2 linked regions of the Homo sapiens genome follow. The protein of the gene in region 2 purifies or fractionates together with the protein of the main gene of each other region. This does not show direct contact. Each region holds a gene or a part of one and is shown on either strand. Other genes may lie near its edges. The genes, in order: SESTD1 and DECR2.

The links.
Region 1: the proteins of DECR2 (region 2) and SESTD1 purify together in Homo sapiens (affinity purification with mass spectrometry; 2 studies listed by BioGRID and IntAct, with this or other methods). This does not show direct contact.

Annotation. Positions count from the first base shown.
Region 1 is NC_000002.12:179,099,324-179,109,568, forward strand, and holds the end of SESTD1 (SEC14 domain and spectrin repeat-containing protein 1), read right to left. Parts: 3' UTR 2,355-10,245; downstream 1-2,354. UniProt on the Homo sapiens protein: May act as the primary docking protein directing membrane turnover and assembly of the transient receptor potential channels TRPC4 and TRPC5.
Region 2 is NC_000016.10:401,295-411,884, reverse strand, and holds the start of DECR2 (peroxisomal 2,4-dienoyl-CoA reductase [(3E)-enoyl-CoA-producing]), read right to left. Parts: upstream 10,001-10,590; 5' UTR 9,922-10,000; coding exon 9,842-9,921; intron 6,930-9,841; coding exon 6,861-6,929; intron 5,540-6,860; coding exon 5,488-5,539; intron 4,461-5,487; coding exon 4,325-4,460; intron 1,643-4,324; coding exon 1,518-1,642; intron 1,195-1,517; coding exon 1,101-1,194; intron 914-1,100; coding exon 809-913; intron 525-808; coding exon 307-524; intron 1-306.

The sequences.
Region 1 (10,245 bases), on a different chromosome or scaffold from region 2:
ACAGGAGAAATAAAATTTAAGCTGAGGAAAGATTTTCTAGTCATTAAGGCAATATAAAAATATCAAGGTCTGTAAATAAATTTCACCATAAATATGAGCATAACATCACCAAACTTCATAAAGATAGAATAAATAACAAACTAGGAAAAATACTTGTTCAAATATGATGGATTATTAGCCTTATTTAAAAAAAAACTCTTCAAACAAATAAGAAAAAAAGCTAACTCCAAAGGAAAAGTATGCAAAAATAGTAACAGACAAGTCACCAGAAGGGAAACACAATGGATAATAATAAATCATTAAATTTGTTTCAGCCTCACTGGTGGTTAAAGAAATGTACAGTGAACTGGTTTTCTCAAAGATTTGTAAAGACTTTAAAAAGAACACCACTTCATGCTGGAAATAGTGCCATGAGACAGGCACCCTGTTTTTTTTTTTGTGTGTGTGAGCTTCTTATTATTATTATACTTTAAGTTTTAGGGTACATGAGCACAATGTGCCGGTTAGTTACATATGTATACATGTGCCATGCTGGTGTGCTGCACTCATTAACTTGTCATTTAGCATTAGGTATATCTCCTAATGCTATCCCTCCCACCTCCCCCCACCCCACAACAGTCCCCAGAGTGTGATGTTCCCCTTCCTGTGTCCATGTGTTCTCATTGTTCAATTCCCATCTATGAGTGAGAACATGCGGTGTTTGGTTTTTTGTCCTTGCGATAGTTTACTGAGAATGATGATTTCCAATTTCATCCATGTCCCTACAAAGGACATGAACTCATCATTTTTTATGGCTGCATAGTATTCCATGGTGTATATGTGCCACATTTTCTTAATCCAGTCTATCAGGCACCCTAACTGTTAACAGACACATACATCTACCTAACCTTCTGGAAAGCAATTTGGCCATATCTATTAAAAGCCTCAAAATATGCATACATTCCAATCCAATATTTCTACTTTCAGGAATCAATCCCAAGGAGAGATGCTGTCAAAAAGTTAAGAGCAAGGATGTTCATTGCAGCATTACTTATAGTACCGTTAAGAAAGAAAGAGAAAGAAACTAAATGTTTCACCTAATAGTTTAATAGTTAAATCATGGTATTTACATATTATTGACTATTACACAGCTATTGACTTAAACTGGAAAAAAGTTTAATAATTTTTTTATGATATAATAGCTGTAAAAAGCAGGAAATAAAGTTGAATGCTAGCATACTCGTTAGGTTAAATACAAAGGAAATGTATCAAATATTAACTATGTTCTCAGCACTGATAAATAATGGGCAGTTTTCACTTTTTATATTTTTCTCTATTTACTAGAGTACTTTAAAAATAATAACTACACATTATTCTTAAACAGAAATTTAAATAATAAAGCATAAAGGAATTAGTTATTTCCAGTTGAAAACAACCTTCCCTTAGTGATGAGATGCTGGAAAATGACAGTTCAGGCTTCACTCTGTTTTGAATTTGCTAAAATTTACCATAGATTGGATGTGCTAATCTTTCAGAACGTGTTAATTTCATAAACATGTTTGGTTTCTCTAGTCCCTATAAGTATATAATTCCCAAAATGCCATCTCTGTATTCTTCTATTCAAATTAGAGAAATTAGGTAATTTGCAGGATGATCAGACATTGTCTCTGAAAAGTTTATATATTGAAGTTTTTATAAAAGGTATTCTAGAATCTTGCAGTCAGAAGTGTGGTCTGCAGACTGGCAGCAGCAGCAGCAGCTAGAAACTTGTTGAAAATGCAAAACTTTTGGTCCTACCCCAGATTTACTGAATCAGAATCTGCATTTTAGTAACACTTCCAGTTGATTTGTAGGCACACTCATATTTGATAACCACTGGTATAGAACACATATTCTAGTTCTAACTACATGGCTACAATGCAACTATAGTCCTCCTTCAAAACTTAATCTATGTTCATGTCCTAAGTACCATCTTTATGGTCTATGAGTTCTAAACATTTTCTTAGAACAAGAGTGGCTTCCAACTAATGAGTGGGATATATCCTAAAAATATATTGGTAGGTCAGTTGTTAACTTATACAGTAATATAATTAATGCTAGATTTCTAGGTCATCTTACAGTAGCTTGCATAACCCATAATATAGTTGAAGAAGAGGACTAATTGCATTTTAATCATTTTTTTATGGGAAAATATGTTCCCAGTTCTAACAGAAGATTCTAGGAAAGCCTGATACTGCCATCAATACAGGACTCCCAGATGGATGCAACTATTAGTATTTGTGTATGTGTAGACAATTAGTAGAGCTGATTTTCCGATTCTGAAAATTTTCTAAACAAAAGAATAAAATGTATTAAAAAGACAGGAATGTCAAGTGTTGATATTGACTCATTCACATTTTCTCCCAATTTTATTTTGAACAAACACAATGGTAAGATCACTTCAATGGTTTGAAACAGGTTTGTGGATACAATGAAGCATCTAATGGAAAACCTAGAGATGGATGGATACTCTAACATGTAAAGTAAACATGTCCATTAATAACAAATGTACAATGTCTTCTATATATTTTTTTGCTTGTATGTTGAACTGTCACTCAAATGTACTTAACTTCATTGGACAAGGTATAAGGCTTGCCAATTTCCAAAGTCTGGCAGTCCAAAATCCTTAGTAGCCATTCTGGAACTGCTATTGTTTATAGCATGATATGATTGTGTTATTTTAAATACAGCTTTGTTGTAATATGCCTCCTCCATCCCTAAATACACATTCACCTTTGATGCCTTAAAAATGGACTTCTCAGTAGGAACAATGGAAATTTCACCACTGTCTATTATGGTGAGAACCTATTTCTGACAACATGAGACGTAGAGAAAGCACTGAACTTCTGTGCCAAGCCTGTGGGAAGGGATTGTTGGGGTCACGGGAGAGGGAAGCAGAAGCCTCTGTCTTCTAAGACTCCAGGTTATTTCAGAATATACAAGTTACATTTTTGATTTAATGAAAGGTTTTAGGTAACACTGTTAGAAACAATTTAAACCTTTACAAAAAATAACTCAAATTGATTCAAAGATGCAGAATTCATCAGATTATCTTATAGAGACCAGTGTGACTTAATTCTCCCTAGATTTTATGAACAACTTTTATTAACAGAAATCAAACTTATTGTCCAAAGTGACAATATATCAAAGAAATACATACCAAAACCTGCTGCCATTATAGTTGTTAACATTTTTATTGCATATTTACAATGTGTGGAACATTATAAGGATTTACAGTAGAAGCCAAATTTCCCAGCCCTTAAAATTTTAATAGGAAAAATCGAATAAACCATACATATTTTTGAAAATGAGCATTAGAAACACACAGATGATTATAATTCTATAGACTAATACAGGTGAATGCTGTATGTAATAGAACAGCTGGGAGAGGTAAAAGAGTGGATAAGAGAGTCATCAGAGTGTGAAAAAACTACAGCTGGGTGGTATTGAATAAAGAGACAATATTGAAAATATTTTTAAACGCTAAAATGTCCCGTAAAAGCATAGCTATCCCCTATGCAAAACTGTGAGGTAGAATTTTTCCCACCCCGTTTTCTGCTCTTCTGGCCACCATTTGGGGGACTTCCCTGTCCAGGTGACTCTCTCTCACATAGCTGTACCTGGGGCTTACTAGCAATACATGCTTTCCACTACCCCCTCAACCTCATCACAGAAATAACCTTTTCTGTTCAATGATCAGTCTTACTTTACCTACTGAAAACGGGTGGTGAAAGTTAGTAACATAAACAAACCAGTGCTGTTTCTTCTAGCTAACATATCACCATGGTTGGGCTTTAACCTTTCAAGGAGTGAAATATTGCTAAAGTTTCAGGCATAGGAACCCCTTGAGGAGCTGTCTGGGGCAGACAGGTCTTTGCTTTCCTCAGATAGTTCCAATTGTCATCCTTGACCATGAACAATGCCATTGTTATTCCAAACTCACTTCTTCTAATACTTCAATATGGATCATAAAAATAGTTTACACCTTTATGCACATCAAAATACAAAATACAGGGCACAATAAAACTGAACTGGAAAAAGGTATGGCAGTTTCTTTTAAAACTACCCTGTGACCCAGCAATTCTAATCCAAGGAATTTACTGCAAAGAAATGAAAACCTATGTTCACAAAGACTTACGTAAGAATGGTCATAGCAGCTTTATTTATAATGGCCAATCCTGGAAACAGCCCAGGTATCTATCAATAATAGGAAATTAAGAAAACAAACTGTAATATTGTCATACAGTGGAATACTACTCAGCAATAAAAAAGAACAGCAATAAAAAAATGAAGCCTTGTAGAAAAGCGTACATGTTGCGTGACTCTATTTATATAAAGTTTTAGAACAGAAAAATCTTATGGTAGAAAAAGGAACAGTGGTTGCCTTTGAGGGTCAAGTAGGGACAGGAATTGACTGGAAAGGGCAGTGTGGAAACTTTCTAGGGTGGTGATAACGTTTCCTATTTCCATAGCACTATATGCATTTGCCAAACCTCAGTGAACACATATTTCTATGCACTTCATTGCATGCTAATTTTATGTAAAAAAGCCAACAATGAACTCTAGTTAATGATATGCAATTTAAAATGCATCAAATAATAATATGAAATGATGAATGGATATGTGACAAAGCAAGCATAGGTAATGCTAATTAGCATCTAGGTAGTGAGTACACTATAAAATTATTTTAACTTTTTAATGTATTTGATAATTTTCATAACAAGATGTTGGGTAAAAATACAGGGTGCAATGTTTACCAAATAGTTTTGCTGAGAATTTCATTACTGATTTTATGACAGTAAGATCATCAAATTCTTCTAAGTGTCCATTGAGAAGTAAGTTTCTCTTAAAGGCTTCTGAGACTATTCGTAAGTGTGATGTGAGCAATCAGTTCTCAAATCTACTCTGGTTTATAACTGTCAAAGTGGTATTTCGATCCTTTCACCTTTACAAAATACAATACATATATTTTGATGATATATTCTGAGCAAATCTGTTGGCCATAAAGATAACATAAGAGTTAAGATGAGAAAACATTCCTAAGAGAAAAATCAAACATACAAATTTTATTTACCCTAACTTCCAGACTAAAAAAGAATCTGTAACTGTAATAGAAAAGAAGTGAGGCTTGGTCATAAATAGTGAGTGGTCTACTGTGTTCTGAGTGGAAAGGCACCCAGTCATCTCTCATCTCTCCCCCAAGACAGAAGCATTTGGACACCCTAAAGACATGGTATTCAGCTTGTGAAGACTTCTAAGGTGCCTCCTGGAGATTCACTGGGAACTGGCTGGAGTTCAATAGCCCTTTTGTCAGAAAGTTTTCTACATGCCTAACTTAAAATCCCTAATAACACTGCTCCTGATAAGTAGCAGTTGATAACTACTTTCAGTTAAGAATTCCTATAAAATTACATATAGGAATTATACATACAGCCTCATAAAGTTCTCCAAAAAAAATCTTTAAAAATGTGCCCACTGCTTTCAAAATATTTCATCATAGTTCTGGCTGTCTTTTGATCTCTAAGTTCTTCATGTTCTAGTACAGGTTCTGCTTTTTCTTGAAGTAGAGGGACTAGTGTTTATTCTCAAGCTTTCATGTTTGCTTTAAAATTCTGCAGTAATGTTGAGTCATATTAAGTGTCATACCCATGAACTTTTTTCAGTCTTAAAGACTCCCCTGTATTTATGCCAGCTCACGGAGTGTCCTTAGTTCTATGCCTCTATTACAGTATCAGTCGGCCATTTTCTGTTCATCATCACTGCCTGAGTTTACCAAGAGACTGCTCCTCTCTAAGCATAGCCAGCACTAATTGTGGTCTTTTCATGCTTTGTTCTGTTTTTTTTTTTTTTTTAACCTCATTATTGGGATACTTAAATAACAGATTTATGCTGTTGTTGTTTCTACTGGTCGGTGCTCGCTCACTAATATCCAATCCTAGTATGATTTTCTTTTACTTGTGTCTATTAACAGGGTTATGTCACACCTTGTCAACCTCAAAACAGATGATACTCATCACTTGTCTTCCATCTTGCTGTTCTATTATCTTCCTACAAAAATAGCTAATTTGTCAGATTTCAAAGCCTTGTTATTTACTGATGAGCTTACCAACTGGACCTTTTGTATCTTCAGTGTGTAATTCTGAAGATGCATTCTGATACACTAGTGAACTGGGGGTGACGGTGAAGGGGTGGTGGAACTAAGGGGGTGGGGCGGCGAACATAGGCAATATGCCATTTCCTCACCATCCCATGCTTGTCATGTGAGACAACAGAAAGGATAAAGAATACTCTATTTTTTATTCTGAAAAGATAATTATAGCAATGATACCTTCCATTCTGTTTATTTCTGGATATTTTGGCTTCAACAATTCTTTATATCATATTTTATTCTTGAAATTGGTATGACTTCTCTGTTTTACAGCCTGAGATAAATTCTCAGATATTTTTTTAACAGTAAATGGCAAAGCCAGATTTTTGAAGCCAAGTATTCAAGCTCCAAACACTTTCCATTATATTCATTACAGTTCTTGTTTTAGCTGGTATGTTCTTTCCTCTACAAGTACTGCCATTATTTATGCTTCTTAGCTAAACCTAGACTTTTCAGTAGCATGTATGAAAGTCAAATAATGTCAAATGGTAAGTTTCTACTTCATTTTATCTCATCAGGGTATTTGTTGCTCTATATACCAGCATAGTATATTTTCTACTCCCAACTGAAGCTTTTCATTTTTAGGACTGAACGTTAACAATAAGTCTACTAATTAGGTTAACTGCTTAGCTATGTTCCAGCCATGTTTTTAATGCTAGAGAATTTTTCCTTTGGGGGCTTAAGCAAAGATATCCTAATCATACAGATCTCACTACTGATGATAATATACTTAATGGTGCTTGTTTCTGCCTGTACCATTCCCTATAGGCTGAAGATGTAAAGGACATTAGCAACCACAGTATGTTTAGTTTTTAGTAGCAACAGTATTTTACTACGGCCTTGTGTACTTTGGGTAGGATGTGAGAAGGGGAGTAGTACATAATAATGCCCAATCTCTATTAGCAAGTAACTTACAATGTAGTAGAGAATTCTGAACTATTTCTTCAAATGTAGACCATAGATTCAGCTAACTTCATAATCACATCATTGGTAACAATGGGTTTAGATCAGAGTATGGTTTACTCATCACTGTTAGTAAGGTAACTTAATTGTCATGCTCACGCTAAGGAGTACGACACTAATAATACCACTCCGTATGTCAGCTAATAAGATAACGAAATAACAAACATGTTAAGACTAGCTAACACATGGGAGCAATAGCCAATGTAAATTTGTATAAAGTGAGAAGTATTCAATCTTCTACCTAACAATGAAGCCTAGACCTGCCATCAATATCCCAGCTGGCAGGCTGAGCAGTTTCATCAACATCACCAATGAGTCACCAGAACTGAACAAAGTGACCAACAATGAGGACTGGGAACAAAGCCAATTTGACCTAAAATGAAGTCATCATTTTTGCATAACTCTGCTGGGTTAGACATGTGCGAAGAACAGATGCCAAACTGCCATTATATATTAAGCTTACACAGGAGCAAACAAATGATAAAAGAAAAAAAAAATCCTCAAACAAACAAAAAAACCCAAAAAAACCAAAACAAAATGAAACTAACCCTGCCAGCGTTTCAATAATTCCCTGAGATGGGCTAAAGGAATGTGGGAGGTTGTGACATATATACCAATTACAAATGAGTGGTTCTTTCAGAGACTTGCAAGCTGATGTTAATTTATGACATAGAAACAGCTTGTGGTTTCAAACACACTGCAGTCACTTTTTTCACACGTTTACCTTAAGTGAGCTTTGACCCTATGGAAGAAAGTTGCTTTAGGGCATTACTGGATTTTCATTCATAACTCTATGTACAGATACACATATGAAAGCAGCAGCAAATTTACAGATGAGGAGCAATGATATTCATTATGTTAAAATCATACTTGGCCTCATGTGAAACACTCAATTTACAAGTAACATTTATGAATCCTGCCTTATTTTACTTTTTGTAGGCAAGATAGCTTAAGGTATATAAAAATTAACTCATTTGGCAATTATAACTCCATGAGTTGATGGCAGAATTACTAACAAACCAGTTCCTTTCTAGCAAAGTCTTAAGAAAAACATTCTAACTACTCTGAAATTCAGAAGAAACAGATATTGAGTATTGATATTTAGTTATTGAGTATAACTAAATATCTAAAGTAGTTAGTATCTAAGAATCTAAGAATAGATTCACTTGTAAGTCAGTTCTAACTTTAAAAAAGTATGTTTAAAACATACTTCAGACTGCAATGTAACAGGGATTATTACTAATGCCTATAATACAGCATTCATATTTAGGAGGAATGGGCATCTGTTATGCATGAGCAAGACTGGGAATAGGAGAAGACAAGATTCCTTCCCTCAAAAGAGCTTACTGGGTACAGACATAAACAACTGTAGAATGTGATAGCACCATCATGAAGACTGAAATAAATAATCACAAAAGTTCATACTCATAGCAGTAAAGCCCCAAAGGACTGAGAAGATGATTCAAGTATAGAAAGAACTTCCTGGATGTTCTCAGAAGCAGTGACCACATAAGACAAGAGGGAGCAGTTGAACTTTGCCCTGAACTTCCTGGCATGTTTGACTAGGAAAAAAGGCTGCACCATTAACCTAAATTGTTCCAGGAGGAAAAGGTGATAAATATTGTCAATCTTTAATCAAGGTTGAAATGTCAACTAGGCAATTAAAAAGAAGTACAAGTCTAGATTTCTGGACCAGGTATGTAATCCAGAACATTGGTATAAAATAAAAACTCTAAGGATGAGATACCGAGAAAAGAGCCAAAAGCATTCTGAGGACAGGATCTGAGAGAGCACATGTTCAGCAGGCACATCTTAAATTAGGGTTATGCGACTGTACTCACAGTTATTTCAGAGGATAGCATCTTCAAGGAAGGAGACACTGTCTAGGAAAGGTTGCTCAATGGTGTAAATGTTGCAGAGAAAAGGGTAAGGGATTCAGACGGAGAAAAAAACCATTCAGTTTGGTAACTGGGAGGCCATTGCTGACTTTCAAAAGAACAGTTTCAGTAGAGTGCTGTGTAAAACCAGACTGCAAGGTGCTGAGTAGTGAGTGATGAGGATGTAGGGGCACTGGATGTGGATTTCTCCAAGAAGTCTGTCAGTCAGTGAAGAAGGCTGGAAAAACTAGCAGGTTAAAAGGGAGGGGTTTTTTTTTTGCATTGGAAGATACACGAGCATGTTTGTAGACCTCAAAAAGGAACCAGTATACAACTCGTTTATAATTTTGTAATGACTACAAGACTAAAAAATAATTTTTAATATTTTAAAAAATGTTCTGAAATAAAAATACATAAAATTTAAATTATATGCATTTTACCATTTAAACTTAATACAAACTTAAAAGAACTAGCATTTCATGATAAATTTTATTTCTAAAGGGGTCATACAGTTCTGTTATTGGACTACTTCAGAATTTATTTTGCTTTTAGACTATAATGAGAAACTAAATTTTATTAACAATTGCTATTTTAGTTCCTGAAAGATTACTCTGATATAAAGGATTACACTGAAGTAATTATGTATGCCTTCTTCCTCAGCCCTCCTCCCCTAAAGACAAAGTATCTTCAGGGTAGTTAATAATTTTGAGAATATTTTTCAAGTTGAAAAAGAGAAAAATTAGAAATAGTATTCCATTATTAATAAGTTCTTAAAGATCTAAATTGTTCACAATAATTTTTCATGATAAAACATGCTTATTTATTATATACACATGCTTACATATGTATTTCCTGTCTAAAATACATGCAACCACCATGAAAAAACAAATATTAAACCATCCTCACAGTCCTAAGAATGCCCTTTTAAATAAGGCACTCATGTTTGGAAATAGGATGTAACTACTAAATTAAATAAGATGTTTAAAGAAGTCTTTTATTAAGCACAAACAACTTTTAATACATTATCAATACAAATAGGAAAAGGTCTTTTAATGACTATGATATATCAAAGATCTGAAAGGCTTTCTCTGTATTGACACAATAAAAATAATCAATTCTGAAGAATTACAAAGTAAAATTTTGAGGACACCACTGTCTACTAACAAGAGTTTAACTACTGTCTAAATTTACTAAATCACCTGTGGAGGAAGGGCAACTTTTTTTTTTCTTTTTAATAGA
Region 2 (10,590 bases):
GGAGTTTCAGAACTTAGTAGCCGGCTGAGGACGGCTTCCCCCTAAAACACCTCGGCTGCCTCGGCCACCCAGCACCTGCCAGAAATGCCGGCAGAGGCCGAGGCCGCTACAGAAGAGCAAGTACACCAGCGCCCGCCTCCTGCTCAGCCCCACTGGGCAGCACCCATGTGTGGGCAGGCTGGCGCAGGGGCCGGGAGGATGGGGACAAAGGAGACGCCAGCCCCGTGGGTCCCGCAGAGACCTGCCCATGCAGTGACCAGCGTCCAAGGACACAGATGACCCCAAGAAGCGGGAGCAGTACCTCACCTAGAGCTTAGCAGAGAAGGATGCGAAATCCGGCAGCCCTTTGACACCGTTTGGGAACGTCAACCATGCCCCGCCATCGGCCACCAGCACGGCCCCCGTCACGTAGGAAGCCAGAGGGCTGGCCAGGTAGAGCACGCTGTGGGCGATCTCGGTCTTGTTCCCCAGCCTCTGCAGCGGGCTGGCAGTGACCTTGGTGCTCAGGCTGGCCTGAGGGCCACCTGGAGGGCAGCAGAAGGCTCAGGCCCCGTGAGCCCCAAGACCCAGCACCCTCCCCTCTCCCCCAGCTCATTCCCTGAGAGGCATCTGGGAACAGCAAGGACACAGTCAGTGTCACCAAGGCCTAGCATGGAGCAGGATCAGGCCAGGCACAGAACATAGTTGCCACCATGGAACCAGCACAGGGCTTTTCAACATACACCCTGCCAAGGTTCTGGAAGCTTCATGGGCACCCTGTGCCCCAGGAGAGGATCTGTGGGAGGCCTGGGCTCCCTGAGAGCCTTACCCAGTCGCCGGAGCCCCTCTGTGCCACTGATGGGGCCAGGGGCGAGGCTGTTGACGCGGATGTTTTGGGGACCCCACTCCACAGCCAAGTGCCGCGTCATCGCGTCTGCACAGAAGAAAGTTGGATATGAAAGGGCCGCTCTGCCCTCTGCGAGGGCGCAGGGCCAAGGCCAGGTCTCGCTGCCTGCAGCTGGGCTCAGCTTCAAGTGGAGACTGCTGGCCTCCTGGGATGGAAGCAGACGGCCCATTGGGGACCCACGTGGGCAAACCTGGGCGGGGGGGGGTGGTCATACCCACAGCGGCCTTGGCGGAGCCTGCATGCACCTGGAGCGCCTGCCCCCGGTTCCCCAGGGTGGCAGTGATGTTCACGATCACCCCTCCGTGGTCCTGCAACACACAAGGCCCGGGGCAGTGAGCGGGCGGGTGTCGGGGGAGGTCACAGGACAGTGAGCGGGTGGCTGTCAGGGGGAGGCCCGGGGCAGGGAGCGGGCGGCCGTCAGGGGGAGGCCCAGGGCAGGGAGCGGGCGGCCGTCATGGGGAGGCCCAGGGCAGGGAGCGGGCGGCCGTCAGGGGGAGGCCCCCGCTGGGAGTACACCCACCCGGAAGAACTTCTCACAGAGCGCACAAGGCACCCACCCGGAAGAACTTCTCACAGAGCGCACGAGGCACCCACCCGGAAGAACTTCTCACAGAGCGCACGAGGCACCCACCCGGAAGAACTTCTCATAGAGCACACGAGACACATTGAAGGTGCCGCTGGTATCGATGTCCATCACGGTCTTGAAGGCGTTGAAGGACAAGGCGCCAGCGGGGCACAGGAAGTTCCCGGCCGCACCTGCAGAATGGGAGACCGCAGGAGCTGCTGGAGCCTGGGGAGAGGGATGCCAAGTGGGTGGTGGCCAGGTGGGCAGAGCGGAGGGTGCAGGAGGGAGCCCAGGTGCCCTGTGGCACAGGGAGGAGACCCATGCCCTAGGATAAATTCCAAAATGACCAGAGCAAGACGGGCGTCCTGGCTGCACTGTGTCCCCGAGAAGAGAAGACATGCTGAAGCCCTGGCTCCGTACCTGCGACTGTGGCCTTGTTTGGAAATGGGGTGGGTTGCAGAGATAATCGAATTACACTGAAGTCACAACGAATTAGGGTGAGCCCTAAATCCAATGACCAGCATCCTTATAACAAGGGAAGAGGACACACAGACACACGCCACGGGAAGACAGTGGCAGACAGTGCAGCGACGGTCTCCGAGCCCGGGAGGGCCAAGGGCTATGGCAGTACCCGAAGCCACGCAGAAGGCAGGAAGAGGCTCTCCCCTGGGGCCTTCAGAGAGCATAGCTCTGCCGACGCCTTCCCCTTGGACGTTCTGGCCTCCAGAACTGGGAGATTATATTTCGGTTGTTTTACCCACACAGGTCGTAGTACTCTGTTAGCCCAGGAAACTAATACACAGGATGTTTTTAAAAGGGAATTTCTGCAGAGTGAAACCAGTGTTGGTTCATCAATTGTAACAAACGCAAGATGTTAACAGGGAAAACTGTAGGTGGGAGTATGGAATTCCATATACTATTAATTATTCTATAAACCTAAAACTGTGATTTAAAAAAAAAAATCGGCCAGGCGTGGTGGCTCACGCCTGTAATCCCAGCACTTTGGGAGGCTGAGGCGGGCGGATCACGAGGTCAGGAGATCGAGACCATCCTGGCTAACATGGTGAAACCCCATCTCTAGTAAAAATACAAAAAGTTAGCCAGGCGTGGTGGCAGGCACCTGTAGTCCCAGCTACTGGGGGACTGAGGCAGGAGAATGGCATGAACCCGGGAGGCGGAGCTTGCAGTGAGCCAAGATTGCGCCACTGCACTCCAGCCTGGGCGACACAGCAAGACTCTCTCAAAAAATAAAAATAAAAATCAATAAAAATAAAAAATAAAGAAATAAAAATAAAAGCTGGGGGCCAGGCGCGGCGGCTCACGCCTGTAATCCCAGCACTTTCGGAAGCCAAGGCGGGCGGATCACCTGAGATCAAGAGTTCGAGACCAGTCTAAACAATATGATGAAACCCCATCTCTATTAAAAATACAAAAATTAGCCAGGTGTGGTAGCGGGCGCCTGTAATCCCAGCTACTTGGGAGGCTGAGACGGGAGAATTGCTTGAACCCGGGAGGCGGAGGGTGCTGTAAGCTGAGATTGTACCATGGTACTCCAGCCTGGGCAACAAGAGCGAAACTCCCTCTAAAAAAAAAAAAAAAGCTAGGCCAGGCTAGCTTCTATTTTATTGATGACTCTTGCTTGTAATCCCAGCATTTTGGGAGGCCAAGGCAGGAAGATTGCTTGAGCCTAGGAGTTTGAGACTGGCCTGAGCAACACACACTAAGACCCTGTCTCTACAAAAAATAAAAAATATAAAAATTAGCCAGGCGTGATGGCACACGTCTGTAGTCCCAGCTCCTCAGGAGGCTGGGGCAGGAGGATGGCTTGAGCCCAGAAGGTGGAGGCTGCAGTAAGCCATGATCACACCAGCCTGGGTGACAGAGTGAGATGCTGTCTAAAAAAAAAAAAAAGGCTATTACTTTTTTTTTTAAAGACGGAATTTCAGGACACAAGGGCACCCGACTCTACCATTGAGCTGTGTTCATGGCGTCCACTTGGGCTGCAGCTGTGCTGACCTGCTGCCACCCAGAGAAGCGGAGTCAGGCCGGAGACAGAGGGCCAGAGACAGAAGGCGGGACACAAAGGCCTGGAGACAGAGGGCCAGAGACAGAGGGCCAGAGACAGAAGCCCGGAGACAGGGGGCCGGAGATGGGGCCGGAGACAGAGGCCCAGAGACAGGGGGCCGGAGACAGAGGCCCGGAGACAGAGGCCCGGAGACAGGGGGCCGGAGACAGGGGGCCGGAGACAGAGGCCCGGAGACAGAGGCCCGGAGACAGGGGGCCGGAGACAGAGGCCCGGAGACAGGGGCCCGGAGACAGAGGTCCGGAGACAGGGGGCTGGAGACAGGGGCCCGGAGACAGGGGCCCGGAGACAGAGGGCCGGAGACAGAGGCCCGGAGACAGGGGCCCGGAGACAGGGGGCCGGAGACAGAGGCCCGGAGACAGGGGCCCGGAGACAGGGGGCCGGAGACAGAGGCCTGGAGACAGGGGCCCGGAGACAGGGGGCCGGAGATGGGGCCGGAGACAGAGGCCCGGAGACAGGGGGCCGGAGATGGGGCCGGAGAGAGACGCCCGGAGACAGAGGCCCAGAGACAGGGGGCCGGAGATGCGGCCGAAGACAGAGGCCCGGAGACAGAGCCCGGAGACAGAGGCCCGGAGACAGGGGCCCGGAGACAGGGGGCCGGAGATGGGGCCGGAGACAGGGGGCCGGAGCCTGAGTCTTGGCCTCAGGTACCTGGATGGGGTGCAGCCCACCCCAGCACAGGCAGCTAGGTTCCCTGGCATGGTCCCCACCCCATGACCAGAGTTCTAGGGCCTCCAAATGGTACCACCAACCTGTGAGAAGCCACCAACCTCACTCAGCACCGACTCACAGTTAATGAGAATGTCGATTCTGCCAAACTCCTTCAGAGCCTGGTCCACGGCGGCCATGACAGCTGGGGGCGCTCGGACGTCCATAGAGAGAGGGAGGCAGCGCCGGCCGGTGGCCCCAGCCAGCTTCCTGGCGGCCTAGAAGCCAGGTAAAGAGGCAGACAGCAGCCCTGCAGCCTCGGCCTGGAGAAAAGGCCTTTGGAATCTGCAGAGGACGATGCTTCCGGGTTCCTCGGGGACCCTGGGTTTGCTGCTGGACCCCACTCTGGGGAAGCACAGCCTGCAAGTGCCCACGACCCCAGTGGATGTTTGTGGGAACCTGCCACGCTCTCCCCCCACCTGCCACCTGTCCTAGAATCCTCCCTCTGCGTCGCCCTCCAGGCCACTGTCACCCATGTCCTGCCCCTGCTGCAGACCAGAGGTGGCACAGGTGAGACTCTCCTCCCAGGTCGAGGGCTCCAGTAGGTGGGACGCACGGACCACCTAAATAACCCAGGTGAGCCCAGAGGTCTTTCTTGGGGCCACATTACCCCCAAACAGGAAGGTCCCTCCCAGAACCCAATAACTAGATTTTTTAAAAAGTCAAAGATGTCTCTGGGAGGCCACTTACACTGAAGCTCCATATTTAGGATAGGTGCAAGTTTTGGTGCCGGCTGGGCACAGTGGTTCACACCTGTAATCCTGGCACTTTGGGAGGCTGAGGTGCCGGCCGGGCACAGTGATTCACACCTGTAATCCTGGCACTTTGGGAGGCTGAGGTGCCGGCCGGGCACAGTGGTTCACACCTGTAATCCTGGCACTTTGGGAGGCTGAGGTGGGCGGATCACCTGAGGTCAGGAATTCGAGACCAGCCTGGTCAACGTGGTGAAAACCCATCTCTACCAAAAAAATGCAAAAATTAGCCAGGCGTGGTGGCGGGCACCTGTAGTCCCAGCTACTCCGGAGGCTGAGGCAGGAGAATCGCTTGATCCTGGGAGGTGGAGGCTGCAGTGAGCCGAGATCGCACCACCACACTTCAGCCTGGGTGACAGAGCGAGACTCCCGTCTCAGAAAAAAAAAGTTTTGGTGCCAACATCCCCATAGCCTCTGGACTCTCCTGGCCCAGGCCCAGCCCCAGCCCCCCCACAGCCACCCGAACAGGGGACCATGGGAGAGGCCCTCTCACCGTCAGCACTCGCGGCAGGCTCCTACTGGCAATCACCGTATGGCAGCCGTGCCTGCAAAACCAGAAGCAGGTGTGAGGGCAGTGTGGGCGAGGGGCACTCCCGGGGCATCTGCCCAGCTCCTGAGCAGGAGTCTCTCAGGCGGAAGTACCAGTCCAGGCTGAAGGCCCAGCTGGCAGAGGGCACAGGGGCGTGAACAGGACTGAGGTACTCTGGAGGGACCTCAGGTGGTGCCCACCCCGGGGTTTCTGGCATGGGACATCCCACCGCACAGGCCTGCGGGTCCTGCCCCAAACACCAGGTACAGAGACAGCTGTGAGCCACAGACGCCCAGCCCACACATCTGCCTGGGGCCTGCTGGGCCCACATTCTCCACCCCCTTCTCCCTGTGGGGCTGGCGTGGAGGACTGTTCTGAAGCGGGGTGCTCCCTGCTCCCCTTCCTGACCACGTGGATGCGAATCCACCACGTTGGCCTCTATGAACCCTGGTTCCAGGAATGCCGCTAGGATTTCCAGCTTATCTACTGTTCTTGCGAAAGAGCACAAAGAAGTCCTGCCTTTAGGTCAAAACCACCTTGATGTTATCCTAAACAAATTCCTACACACTCCCTCTGAAGCAGGACCCCTTTCCCTGTGGTATAGAAGCCCTGGGCCTGGGGGTAACAGCATGGAGACGCCCGTCTCACAGCCACCCAAGACTACGCTTCTGCCCACAAATTCCCTGGTAAAATCACCTGACACAGACAAACGGGATCTGTCTGCCTTGTTCTTTGGTTTCTCGGCTCTTCTGGTTCGGGGGTTGCTTGCCCACAATAACCATAAAGGTAGCTACCCCTGCTAGGCAGGTCCCACTGGAGCTGCAATGTCCCATCTGGTCCTCAGATGCCCTGAGCACAAAGCCACCAGTGGAAAGGCCATATCTCTTCCTGTGGGACTCACCTTTTTGGTCTGAAAAGCAGGGGCCTCAGGGGAACTGAGGAAGGGTCCCTTTCCCCCACCCCAGCCTAACTCTAGCCACTGTCAGGTGGGATAAGTTGCTGACCCTGGCCTGAAGCCACAGAATTGTGTCCCAGGAGAAAATGTGCTCTGCAGGGCGCCAGCACTGGGGCCCGACACAGCCCTGACTCTCGAGGTCCCAGCAGGCCCCAGACCAGAGCCACACAATCTCCACTGACCTGTAGGGGCCTTGAAGTCCTGACTCCCCCCAGGGCAATCCTCGACCGCTCCCCAGTCCCTCTGGCAGGCACCTGGATCCTGTCGGGTAGGTGAGCAGGGGACATCTACCTCCCACCAACATCTTTCCAGGGGTCGGGCATCCAGCAGGGCCCGGGCAGGGAGAAGCGAGGAGCAGGGAAGGGACACAGAGCAGTCTCACCGCATGAAAATCTCAGCAATCCGGAACCCAATCCCAGAGCCGCCTCCTGTGATGAAGGCCACTTTGTCCCTGAGAATAAAAAAGGAGGCTCTTTTAAAAGAGCCCTATTGGGCCGGGCCGGTGGCTCCCAGCACTTTGGAAGGCCAAGGTGGGTGGGCCACAAGGTCAGGAGATCGAGACCAGCTTGGACAATATGGTAAAACCTCGTCTCTACTAAAAATACAAAAATCAGCTGGGCGTGGTGGTGGGTGCCTGTAGTCCTAGCTACTTGGGAGGCTGAGGCAGGAGAATAGCTTGAACCCGGGAGGCAGATGTTGCAGTGAGCCGAGATCGCACCACTGCACTCCAGCCTGGGCAAAAGAGCAAGACTCCGTCTCAAAAAATATGTATAAATAAAATAAAATAAAAATAAATAAAAAATAAAAGAGCCCTGTTAAAATACACCTCCCATATTGCTATACGGCAATGATTTAAAATGAAAATTCGGCCAGGTGCCTTGGCTCACACCTCTAATCACAGCACTTTAGGAGGCCAAGGCGGGCGGATCACCTGAGGTCGGGAGTTCGAGACCAGCCTGACCAACATGGAGAAACCCCGTCTCTACTAAAAATATAAAAAATTAGCCGGGTGTGGTGGTGCATGCCTGTAATCCCAGCTACTTGGGAGGCTGAGGCAGGAGAATCACTTGAACCCAGGAGGCGGAGGTTGTGGTGAGCCAAAATTGCGCCATTGCACTCCAGCCTGGGCAACAAGAGCGAAACATGGTCTTAAAAAATAAATAAATAAATAAAATGAAAATTCATAAAATTATAGTATTTTATTTAATTTATTTATTTATTTTTTATTTTTTTTGAGATGGAGTCTCGCTCTGTCGCCCAGGCTGGAGTGCAGTGGCATGATCTAGGCTCACTGCAAACTCCTCCTCCCAGGTTCACACCATTCTCCTGCCTCAGCCTCCAGAGTAGCTGGGACTACAGGCACCTGCCACCACGCCCAGCTAATTTTTTGTATTTTTAGTAGAGATGAGGTTTCACCGTGTTAGCCAGGATGGTCTCGATCTCCTGACCTTGTGATCCACCCACCTCGGCCTCCCAAAGTGCTGGGATTACAGGCATGAGCCACCACACCGGGCCTATTTATTTATTTTGAGACAGGTTCTTGCTACGTCATCCAGGTTGGAGTGCAGTGGCACCATCACGGCTCACTGCCGCCTTGACCTCTTGGGCTAGAAGGATCCTCCTGCTTCAGCCTCCCCAGTAGCTGGGACTACAGGTGCATGCCAGAGTGCCCAGCTAATTTTTCATCTAGTTTTTCTAGAGAGGGGTATCGTTTTGTTGCTCAGGCTGGTCCTGAACTTGTGCTGACACAAACTTGCAAAGTGCAGTGGGGGAAAGGGTATTTCTGTGTCTTTTGACAGAAATGGACAGAAGTAGATACAAGAGAGAAAAATACCCTGGCTTAAACAAGATAGAGGTTATAATTTCCTCTCTCCTAAGCCCTGCATGGCACTAATATCAAATATGATACCTGAGATTCAGCAAGCTACGTCGGGATAATATGGCTTTTTTATTTATTAGAGATTTTCTTGTACGCATTAAATGTGTACTGATCGGTATGACTGGCACAAACTGTACCAGATGGATGGCAAACTTTTGCTGATCTCCAAGTTGCCTTTCCTATTCTTAATTATTAAAGATTAATTTTGGGCCAGGTGCAGCGTCTCACTCCTGTCATCCCAGCACTTTGGGAGGCCGAGGCAGGTGGATCATCTGAGGTCAGGAGTTCCAGACCAGCCTGACCAACATGGTGACACTCACCTCTACTAGAAATACAATTAGCCCAGCGTGGTATTGTGTGCCTATAGTCCCACTTGGGCGCACTGAGGCTGAAGCAGGAGAATTGGGAGGCTGAGGCAGGAGAATTGCTTCAACCCAGAATGAGACTCCGTTTCGAAAAAAAACTTTTTTTTTTTCCTGCAGAACACTCAGAGAGAATTGTCAATACCTGTCCTTGGAGAACATAATTTAAAACTTGTTTTCTTTTTTTGAGATGGAGTTTCACTCTTGTTGCCCAGTGCAATGGTGCGATCTCGGCTCACTGCAACCTCCACCTCCCGAGTTCAAGTGATTCTCCTGCCTCAGCCTCCCAAGTAGTTGGGATTACAGGTGTGCGCCACCACACCCGGCTAATTTTTTGTATTTTTAGCAGAGACGGGGTTTCACCATGTTGGCCAGGCTGGTCTCGAACTCCTGACCTCTGGTGATCTACCCGCTTCGGCCTCCCAAAGAGCTGGGATTACAGGCGTGAGCCACTGCTCCTGGCAAAAGATCAAAATTTTAATAGAAACTTGAAAATGTTGCCAATTGAAAAAAAGAAAAGGAAAAAAAAAAAAGGATCCGCCCATTAGCCGAGTGAGGGCAGGTGACCGGGGAGGATCGACCTTTGCCCGGGCTGCCTTCTCTTGTGAACACCAAGGCGTTTGCAGGAAAATGAAGAGCTGCTGGGCAAAACCTGGCATTCCTGGGCCTTCTGGGTCTTCCGGAAAAATGATTTCAACCTAAAATTTTCTGTTAAGAAAGAGGCCAGGTTGGGCCGGGCGCGGTGGCTCACGCCTGTAAATCCCAGCACTTTGGGAAGCCGAGGCGGGTGGATCACCTGAGGTCAGGAGTTCGAAAAGAGCCTGACCAACACGGTGACACCCCCTCTCTACTAAAAATAAAAATTAGCCGGGCTGAGGCAGGAGAATCGCTTGAACCCGGGAGGCAGAGTTTGCAGTGAGCGGAGATCGTGCCACTGCACTCCAGCCTGGGCGACACAGCGAGATTCCGTCTCAAAAAAAAAAAAAGAAAGAAAAAAGAAAGAAAGGAGCCAGGCAAGACAGGTTTCCTAACACGCGAGCCCTCGGGGACCACGTGGGGGCGCCGGCGCCCGCGGACCGGACCCCGCACCAAGGCTGCGCTCGCTTCCCAGGCCCCGCTCACCGCAGCAGGTCCGGGCAGAAGAGGTGGCGGTACGCGGGGAGACAGTCGTCCCCCTCCACGTCGGGCGGCGGCTGGGCCATGGCGCTCCCGTCGGGGACTGCGGGGACAACGGGCGGGAGCGGCCTCGGCCTCCAGGACCCGGCGCGCAGCTGCGAACTCGCCTGGAACCGGGAGCCCCGCCCCACTCCCCGGACGCCCCGCCCCTGCCCTGATTGCTTCCCGGAGGCCCCGCCCCTCCCCCGAATTCTCCCCGGAGGCCCCGCCCCCGCCCGCGGCCTGCTGGGACTGGAAGTCGGCGCGCGAGGCGCAGGCGCATTGCGGGGCCGGGGGCGCGGTTCCCGCGGCAGAAGCTCGGCGGTCTGCGGGTCTCCTCCCCGAGTCTTTTTCACAGGTATTCGGCGTCAGCGCCGCGTTCAGAGCCTCCAGGACTTGTGGGATACCCCTGGCTCCTGGGTCCAGGCCAGGCTCGCAGCCTCTGGGCTCCCCGTTCGCCTCCCCGTAAACACCATGGGGAGGGCCGGGGCCCAGGGAAGCGCGGCCAGCCCCGCGCCGCTTCCCAAAATGACCCGTTTTGAGGCCAATAAAGAAGGGTCCGGGGCCGGGCGCGGTGGCTCACGCCTGTAATCCCAACACTTTGGGAGGCCGAGGCGGGCGGATCACGAGGTCAGGAGTTCGAGACCATCCTGGACAACATGGCGAAACCCCCTCTTTACTAAAAATACAAAAATTAGCCGGGCATTGTGGCGGGT